3 linked regions of the Homo sapiens genome follow. The protein of the gene in region 2 purifies or fractionates together with the protein of the main gene of each other region. This does not show direct contact. Each region holds a gene or a part of one and is shown on either strand. Other genes may lie near its edges.

Region 1 (3,734 bases), on a different chromosome or scaffold from region 2:
AGATGCCCCTGATTTATCAAATGGGAAAACCAAGCTTCCAAATAGCGTGTGCTGGCACCTGAGTTACAAGGCACGGGGTTCCAGGAGCAGTTCCCTGAGCTCCCTCCCAGGAGAAGCCCATGTAAGAGGCAACTCAGTCCCACATCTTGATGGGAATTCCTGGTTCAGGATCTGCCAGAGAGTTTCAGCTTTTCTCTGGACAGGCCCCCACGATCCCTGAGCCCCTGATCTGTGGTCATCTGGCCTTTCGTTGGTCCTCAGCAGCTGAGGGGACACTTCCAGCTTCCCAGAGTCTTCCTCACCATGGGCCCAAAAGTGGACTTTGTGTACACCTCCAGGTTTCTATTTCATGTCAGACTCTTCCAAACTTCCTTCCAAATTTAGTGAAAGGCCGGGAGTGGTGGCTCACGCCTGTAATCCCAACACTTTGGGAGGCTGAGATAAGCAGATCACTTCAGGTCAGGAGTTTGAGACCAGCCTGGCCAATGTGGTCAAACCCCATCTCTACTAAAAATACAAAAATTAGCTAGGTGTGGTGGCGCATGACTGTAATCCCAGTTACTCTGGAGGCTGAGGCAGGAGAATCACTTGAACCCGGGAGGCGGAGGTTGCAGTGAGCCGAGATCGTGCCACTACACTCCAGCCTGGGCAACAGAGCAAGGCTCTCCATCTTGGAAAAAAAAAAAACAAAAAAACAAACTAAGTGAAACTCTTCCAGCCATACCCTGTGGTGCTTTAAGAAATCAAGACAAGCTTCTTATTTGGATAACCATAGAGAAAAAGCACATGGCCCAGCAAGCACCGCGACAGTCACAAAGCTCAACTTTGATGGCAATGATGGTGTCAGTGACTTTTCCATAATGCGTGTTATGAATTGTGTGCTTTGAAAAACACTGTCACTTCTGATGAAGTTCGGTGCCCCTGCGAGCCTGGGGCTCCACTCCAAGCTGGGCCCTGCTGGCCATGTGCCTCCTGCCTCCCACACCAGGCCCCTTGGCTGGCCTGTCCGTGGTGAGACCCTGGCTCATGCCTGTAATCCCAACACTTTGGGAGGCTGAGGCAAGATGATTGCTTGAGCCCAGGAGTTCAAGACCAGCCTGGGCAACATAGCGAGACCTCGTCTCTACAAATAATTTTTTTTTAAATTTGCCATGTGTGGTGGTGCATCCCTGTGGTCCCAGCTACTTGGAAGGCTGAGGCAGAAGGATCGCTTAAGCCCGGGTGGTTGAGGCTGCATGAGCCGTCATAGTACTACTGCATTCTAGCCTGGGCAACAGAGCAAAACTCCATCTCAAAAAAAATAGGGAGGGGTCCTAGTGAGACCCTGGTACCCACCCCGTCCCTGTCTTCCTCTTCAGATGACCATGCTGACTGTCATAGAGCAGCCAGTACCTCCAACACCAGCTACCCCTGAGGACCCTGCCCCGCTCTGGGGTCCCCCTCCTGCCCAGGGCAGCCCCGGAGATGGAGGCCTCCAGGGTGAGTGTCAGACTCAGACTCCCCTGTGGGAATGAGCAGTGGGTTGGGAATCGGGGAAGTGGGATTCTGGTCCCCACCCTGTCGCTGACTCCCAACTTAACCCTCTAGTGGGCCTCAGTCTTCCCATTTCCCGTTTCTTAGACCCGCCTAAGAGGACCGTCTCCTGGGACTCCTGAATGCTGCAGTCCCTGGAGACCAAGCAGCCCCAGCAGACCCTGCCTGGAGGTCGGGGGGAGCTGGGAGTGGGGATTCTGGATGAGCCTCCCTCCTCCAGGCCCAGCAGGGACACTGACCTCTGCCTACCCCCCCCACCCCAGGGCTGCCAGGAGCCATAGAGAGTGTGAGGGTCCCGCTGCTTCCCCGAAATGGTAGATGCTGGTTGGGGGGCTGGGGCCAGGGTGGGGGTCAAGAGCAGATGTGGAGCTGCCAGTCTGATATGCTTTACCCCCCAGACCAAGTCGGTGCTTGGGGGCTTCCCGGGCCCACCGGCCCCAAGGGAGATGCCGGCAGTCGGGGCCCAATGGGGATGAGAGGCCCACCAGGTGAGTGCCCGCAATGCTGCCCCACAGCTCCTCTGGCCATCCCCTCCACCAGGTGGGCCCTTCCCTGCTCCTGACATGGCCAGGATGACCTGGGCCCTTTCATCTACTTGCCTCTTCACTCAGCACCCCACCACGGAGTGCCCTGCCCACGCCTGGGCTCCATGAAGTCCTCTCTTATGTTCACTGACCCACATTCCCTGGGCACCTACACTTATCAGGCTCTGAGCTGGGCACTGGGTGGGGTCAGACATGTCCCTGCCCTTCTGGAGCTTCCATGCTGCTGGGAGCAGGGCTGGGCAGAGGAGAAGCAGCAATGCTTGCCCCATGTGACCAGGGTTTCTATGAGGGGTTTTGGGGGTTTGGGAGCCCCAAGGAAGGAAGACTCAGCCTGGACGAGGTGGAGAACTAGGTGCTGTGCTCATCCCCCTGTTAGACTACCAGGCAGCCTAGGCCTGTGGACTCCGGGGCCCTCTCTCATGCCCACTGCTCCAGGCTGCCTTGTCCTGTCGCTCAAGGCCACCCTGGGCCTCCTTGCCTCCTGTATACCCACAAATCCGTGTGATTCCATTGCAGGTCCACAGGGCCCCCCAGGGAGCCCTGGCCGGGCTGGAGCTGTGGGCACCCCTGGAGAGAGGGGACCTCCTGGGCCACCAGGGCCTCCTGGCCCCCCTGGGCCCCCAGCCCCTGTTGGGCCACCCCATGCCCGGATCTCCCAGCATGGTGAGTCCCCCTGGGATCCCAGCAGGTGGAGGTGGGGGTGGAGTAGCCATCAGCACAGTGCCCGCTACCATCTGCCACGTGCCTTCTGTGTGCCAGCCCTGCTCACGATAGGCCACATGTGACCCAGTCCTCCAGCAGGCGCCGTTGTCCTCCTGTGGTTACAGGTGAGGAACACTGAGGACCAGAGAGGGAAGGTGGCTTGCCAGGGTCCCACAGCCTGGGCGTAGGGGAACGGCTTCAAACCCAGGCTGCCTCCAGAACCTGTGCTTAGAGCCACCGGGCATCAGGCCCTCCCAAGCCTTGGAACTGGCTGGAATCCAGTTCTCGGAACACTGGGACGCAAAAGACCCGGCGGCAGGAAGTGAGTCCTGAACTCCCAAGGCCACAGGCCCGGCCCCTCCTCCAGGCCCTGACGTGCGTCCTTGGCTTCTTCCCTTTGGCAGCCCAGCCTGACCTGCCCATGGGCTGCCAGGGGTCAGAGTGTGGAGCGCCAGGTTTCAGCCTCTTCTCCACTGTGTTTTTGGTGCACAACCCAGCACACCATTCATTCATTCTGCCATCCCAGCATTCATTCCATCTCACTATCCATACGATGGGGACAATGACAGTGCCAGCCTCCCAGAGCTGCGTAACATCCATGTACAGAAGCCTGGCACACAGTAGGTGGTGGATAAATGGTATCTTTTATTGTCATTCCCATTTGACAGGTGACAGTACAGGCTCTGAAAAGTAGAAAGTGTTGCTGGATGTCACCAGCTGGATTGCAGTGGGGTTAGAACCCACATCTCCCTGCCTCCTGGTCTTGCGGGACCAACACTCTCCACACTCCTCACCCTGGAGCAGGTGCCCAGGTGGTACCAGCCATGCTGCAGGCTGCCCCATAGGGCAGTCCAAGCTGTCTTGGCAGAGGTGGCAGGTGAAGACTAACCACCCCACTCTACCCAGCTCTACTCACTCATCATCTTTGCTCACCCAGGAGACCCATTGCTGTCC
Region 2 (3,734 bases):
AAAAACACAAACAAAATTTAATCTTTAAAATAAGACTATCCTCAAATAATTTTATTGCTCTCCACAGCATTACCTTCCAAAGTCAATTTCTTTTCAAAGCTCCAAAGGAAATCAAGCACCTTAAGAAGTATCTGAGTACCCATATCAAAACCTATTTTTGGAAGTTTAGATAGCCATGATAAACTCACTGCAGTATGAAAAAAATAAAGTAGCACTGAGTGTGGCACCACATCTATACCTGGGCAAGCCATGCATCTGCTGGAGACTCAAGCCAAAATGGTGTAGAGCTGCTGAAAAATTATATCATTAGGAAAAGGAATTAATTCAATTTGGGTTGCTTTGTATTGTACAATTCCAAAAGAAATAAGCTTTGCCCTCTGAGAGCTTTCCTAAAACAGAACAGTTCTACCTGGAAGGCAGCTGCATGAATGAGCCTCCATTAACACAGCTTCCAAAACCTCATTTCTACTCTCTTGAGAAAAAAAGCATTCCAGTGTGATGCCCAGTTCTATCAAACATTTATCATCACCCAATACCAGATGCAGCATCCAAAGGAAGCATATTTCTCTCACACACCCACCAGCAGATGAAGTTGAGGGGTTTGTTGACATGGGTACTGGGTGTAGCTTCTGGTTGAAAGCCAGAGTGGAGGTCTTTTCACTAATCCGTCAGTTCACATAATATGGAAAACAAAATTCATCTCTCGACTCATTATTTTTTTTTCTTCAGGAGTACAAGAATGATTGCAGGTCTATTTGACGTTTATATTTATGGCAGGGAACTTTAAAGAAAATTCCAGCTCAAGGTGAATTCTGTGAGAGAGTGCTGATCTAGAAGAAGAAATGAGCCTCCCTCAAAGGAAAACTGAGGAAAAACCGGAGACAACAGGAGTAGTTCTCTAACTATGAACAATGCCAATTTCAAGGCACAGAATGCAGCTGAGATGCCAGGTAATTTAAGTTCTAACACCTCACAACCTGTGAGAAAGAGCATAAAGTTTTGCAGGGTGAAGTAATTTTATAGTGTCAAGAAGGAAGCCCAGATCCTGAGACCTGAGCTGCTCTTTTACTGTGTGGCTGGCTCATTTCTTGCAGGTCACACAGAAAAAACGTTACTGCATAAAATTTAAACAAGTAAATGTCTGTTTTTAATCCCTTTTGCACATTATAATATACGCCTTTATGAGATGACTGTATAAAATCTAGTATTTTTGGAGAAATTTTGAGATATAATTTGCATATATTCTGAAACCGTTGGTAAACTGAGTAAATTAGAGAAGTTAAATCCAAGCACCACAAAATGTCAGACCCATTAGTTCAAAGAAATAGTGGCAGATACAACCATTAAGATACAAAAAGATTTGGAGAGCATGGTACCACAAGAACATGACTCATTAGGAACAAGCAGCCACAAGTTGGCATTTAAATGTTCAGGCTTTATGTTGTGTTATAATTCAGCATATGGCTGTGTGCACTGTGGAATACTTAAAATAGAATCATTTTCTGAACTGACAGGACAGCTCATGTCCTGATTATTGTCAACTAGGATTTAGATCAATTAATAGAGTAGTTAAAATGAAAGTGGGCCAACTGTTTTGGAACTACGGTAAGATTTGGCATGAGGCTCCAACTTTGACATGTGGTAGTCCCCTCCCCTACTCTGAGCCATGTGTTAAAGAATATTTTATGACTACTTGTGTGAGTACAGTTGGGTGACATTGCCACCCAAGTCCATAACAGTGAATACGGATGGCTGGGTCCTTACTAAAGGATGTACACTATATAAGGAGAGTAATGCCCAGAATCCAATCTTCAGAGGGCAATGGAAATATAATTGATGAAAATAAGAGTCCACAACAACACCTCTTTATTTCCATTGCCAGGTAATTACAAAAGCCAAAGGATGCAAAGTTACAACCATCATCTAACGTTTCCATACTGAGAAACCCACCAAGGACCAAATGTTCCCATATCCCTACTGCTATTCAACTGACATTAATGATTTCTAGATATGCAAACTCCTTGAGCGCAGGAGGTTTTTTTGGCTTTGGTTTTGATGTCTGTACCCACCTACTGGACATAACCTGACACAGAACCTCTCAATAAAGGCTTGCAGAATAAAAGAATTAGGTTACTTTTTTCCAGCCAAGTTCTTCTCTTCCCAACATTGAGTTATTGAGTTTCAAGCATAGAGTCTCTCAGTGAAACAACTCTGCAGCCCAGAGTGCAACTACCCTAACTCACCCATAAATAAAACATATTGTCTATCAAATGAGCCTCTTCAATGTAACCTGTTAAATAGCATTTATAGGAAAAACCCGGGATTCAGCGTTTGTGGGAATGGCTAAAATCACATGGAGAGTGATGGGACACAGACTAAAGCTCAATTCTCTTAACCTCCAATTCAATGATGTTTCCCTATCCCAAGGCAACTGTCTTATCTACTGTAACTTCACAGGACTTCCATATGTCAACAGAACTCAAGATATTTCTCCAGAAAAAGCCATGGTAGAGTTTCTGTGATTCAGAAAGCAGCCATGTTAGAAGCTTCTTTGTGACTTCTTGATTTTATTAAGTTCTCAAGTCATAGCATTAATACTTTACCAGTTTAGCAATATAAGGCCATATAAAATAACACTGCCAATAATTTGCTTGTAAAAATTTATTTTTCTTTTGATATTTCTTTTGATAAAATTTAGAGGCCAGGCACAGTGGCTCACACCTGTAATCCTAGCACTTTAAAAGGCCAAGGCAGGCAGTTCACTTGAGGTCAGCAGTTCAAGACCAGCCTGGCCAACATGGTGAAACTCTGTCTCTACTAAAAATGTGAAAATTGGCTGGGCATGGTGGCGCACATCTGTAATCCCAGCTACTCAGGAGGGTGAGACATGAGAATCGCTTGAGGCCAGGGGGCAGAGGCAGCAATGAGCTGAGATTGCACCACTGCACTCTAGCCTGGGTGATAGAGCAAGACTGTGCCTCAAAAAAAAAATAATAAAAATAATAAAATTTAGAACCAGAAAATTGCAATTGACCACTAATAATGCAGCAAATACTGATCTCTTTTTCTTCTATGTTTGATGATTAGCCAAAGTATCTTAGAGCTATCACGTAATGTACCTCATTTAGTAAATGACAGAACTATAGCGCAAAGAGGTTAGATGGTTCATTCAAGGTTAGTGAGCTAATCAGAGGCCAGTCCACCAGTTAAGCTTAATTCAAAATAATATAATTTGGCAATACTGTTCATCTGACCAATTTTTTGAGCACTTAGTGTATACTAGGAGCTGAACTGAAGATATCAGAATTAATAGGAGCCATCCTAACCCCTCAATAAGCACACAGCTAAGTGAGGAAGACCAAACCCATACCAACCACAATTGTTCTCTCTGTGCACTGAGAAGAAAACGACAAATTCTGCCATAAGCTGGTCAGCAAAGGTGTCACAAGGTACATCCCATCAAAAGAAGTATACATGTGAATGTCTCTTTTCTATTTTTAAAAATTATTCTCTAGGCTGATAATAAAAACTTGAGGAGATTTCTAAGATCCTTGAGGTTTCCAACCTTGATCTCAATGCTCTTATTTTTTAAAGAAAAAGAAAACCTTGAGAGGACCAAACCAGAGGTCTCATCAGATGACAAATGTTTTTTTGTCTGTGGGAGTGATATCACTTAATTAAACTAATTAAATGAGATAAAGTATGTAAAGTGCTTAGCAAAGAGCCAGGCAAAC
Region 3 (2,403 bases), on a different chromosome or scaffold from region 2:
AACAAAAGAGTATCTAAGAGACCAGAGAGAACACTGTGCCTCTGTTTAGAAGTATAACAAGGACATGGATGAAGCTGGAAACCATCATTCTCAGCACACTATCGCAAGGACAAAAAACCAAATATCGCATGTTCTCACTCATAGGTTGGAATTGAACAATGGACACAGGAAGGGGAACATCACACACCAGGGCCTGTTGTGGGGTGGGGGGAGGCGGGAGGGATAGCATTTGGAGATATACCTAATGTTAAATGACGAGTTACTGGGTGCAGCACACCAACATGACACATGTATACATATGTAACTAACCTGCACGTTGTGCATACGTACCCTAGAACTTACAGTATAATTTAAAAAAAAAAGAAGTATAACGAGGACAGTTTAGATGCTTGAAAAAAAAATCTGCTACAAAGCTAAAGAGGGAAAAAAGATAAAAACTATAGATACACTGTGTTGAAAATAATGCAAAGTTCTACATGAACAAAGCAGAGGGTAATGTATCAAAGTGCAAAAGGCAGTTTTATTAAGAATTATGGGGATTTTATTTTTCAGAAGTCCACATTTTCTGAAGTGTGGTTATTTTGCCTGCATAATTTAAAAAGCATACTGAAAGCATTTCATAAACGATAGCACTCCGTATAAAGTATGATCACCAAGAGGGCAGCTTATTCTTGCTTAGGACTAAGTAGAAATAACATTCATTCAAGATTAACTCTGTCTTCCTGTCTCTGAAGAGTGTTGGGACAGGGAGAGCCGCCTTTTCCAGGGTTTGCAAAACAGCTCCATGTGGGACCACCATGGAGCCCGTCTCCCTGGGCTTCAGCTTCCCCTCTCCAGTGGGTGCTGGGAGGGGCTTCTTCTGTGACCTGGGCTGGTGACTGGTGCTACATAGTGAGAAGCCCTGCAGGGCAGCCTCACCAGCCCAGGGTGGCCCTGCCCAGCCCTGGTCAGTGAAGAGGAGCTTCCAGACACACCCATCCTGATGTTGTGCCCATCTTCCCTGAATGCACTGGGCACCTGCCTGGTAGCTCCCAATTTCTCACTAGGGGCTAAATGGCAAGAGGTGATGTTGGCATGTTAGGATCTGGCTACAATGATGCTGGGCCGTGCTGTGACAGCTGTGGGAATGCCCCTGACTGCACTGTCACTAAACACACAGCTCTGCAGTAGAGCTATTTACATGAGTTAAGTCCAGGAAATTCACTTTTTCCAAATGCCCACCACCCAAGATTATTCTCCTCTCTAGCAATATAATAATGTTCACTGGAAAGTGATGCTAGTCATAATTCTTGTTTTATTATTATTCTGAAAATAATAGTTTATGGAGGAAACTCCTGATTAAAGCCGTGTCAGGAGCCCGTCCGAGGATACAACAGTTGATATACCTCCTTTTAATTTCACACAGGGTCTTGCTTTGTCACCCAGGCTGCAGTGCAGTGCTGTGAATCATGGCTCACTGCAGCCTTGACCTCCTAGGCTCAAATGATCCTCCCACCTCAGCCTCCTGAGTAGCTGGGACCACAGGGACATGCCGCCACATCTGGCTAATTTTTGCATTTTTTGTAGAGACGAGGTCTCACCATGTTGTCCAGGCTGGTCCTAGACTCCTGGGCTCAAGTGATCCCCTTGCCTTGGCCTCCCACAGTGTTAAGATTACAGGTGTGAGCCATGGCACCCAACGATATCCCTTCTTTTTATTGGCAAGAAAGATCTTTCCCCTTGTCAACAACTTCCAGGCCCATCAAGGAAAACAGGTGGCAAGACTACCTCAAATGACTCTCAACACTCCTCCTGGAGTGTGGCCCTTCTGGGGAGGTGACTGACTTTAACTAGAGGAGGCACCCTGGCATGCAGACCTGATGGGGGTGATAAGGCAAGGCTCCCACACCTGGAGGAAGGTGGTCTGGATCTAGGAGCCAGGGAGGACCAGGGTGCTTTCCTTGTTGAGTAGCTCAGAAAGCAGCTACTGACACCAAAGCACATCATGTTAGTTTCGAGGTTTGCTCCCCAGGGAGAAATTCCTGCCAGCTCTGGGGGGAACCACGCACAAGAGCTTTGCCACATCCAGCGCGTCGATGGGATCCACGTCCCTCAGTCCAGCATCCCCTGCACCCAGCAGGCTGCCAGGCACGTAGTATGTGCTGAGCAGGTGTTTGTTGAACTGGATGGCCAAGGGCTTCCCCTCGCTGTGCAGCCTCTGGTGCTCAGTGAGGTGCGAGCTCCAGTTGAACATCTCCCCACATTTCTCACACTTAAACGACTTCTCCCCGGAGTGGATTTTCTGATGTTTAATGAGACAGTGGTTCTGGCTGAAGGCTCTGCCGCACTCGCTGCACTTGTAGGGCTTCTCACCGGTGTGGATGCGCTGGTGCACGATGAGGGACGAGTGGCAGCTGAAGGCCT

The links.
Region 1: the proteins of FRAS1 (region 2) and EMID1 purify together in Homo sapiens (co-immunoprecipitation; one large-scale study listed by IntAct). This does not show direct contact.
Region 3: the proteins of FRAS1 (region 2) and ZNF74 purify together in Homo sapiens (co-immunoprecipitation; one large-scale study listed by IntAct). This does not show direct contact.

The regions. Positions count from the first base shown.
Region 1 is NC_000022.11:29,229,662-29,233,395, forward strand, and holds part of EMID1 (EMI domain-containing protein 1 isoform 1 precursor), read left to right. Parts: intron 1-1,358; coding exon 1,359-1,479; intron 1,480-1,620; exon of another isoform or gene 1,621-1,655; coding exon of another isoform or gene 1,656-1,704; intron 1,705-1,796; coding exon of another isoform or gene 1,797-1,847; intron 1,848-1,931; coding exon 1,932-2,021; intron 2,022-2,594; coding exon 2,595-2,741; intron 2,742-2,905; exon of another isoform or gene 2,906-3,102; intron 3,103-3,717; coding exon 3,718-3,734.
Region 2 is NC_000004.12:78,060,112-78,063,845, reverse strand, and holds part of FRAS1 (extracellular matrix organizing protein FRAS1 isoform 1 precursor), read right to left. Parts: intron 1-3,734. UniProt on the Homo sapiens protein: Involved in extracellular matrix organization. Required for the regulation of epidermal-basement membrane adhesion responsible for proper organogenesis during embryonic development. Involved in brain organization and function.
Region 3 is NC_000022.11:20,406,553-20,408,955, reverse strand, and holds the end of ZNF74 (zinc finger protein 74), read right to left. Parts: coding exon 1,988-2,403; 3' UTR 501-1,987; downstream 1-500. UniProt on the Homo sapiens protein: May play a role in RNA metabolism.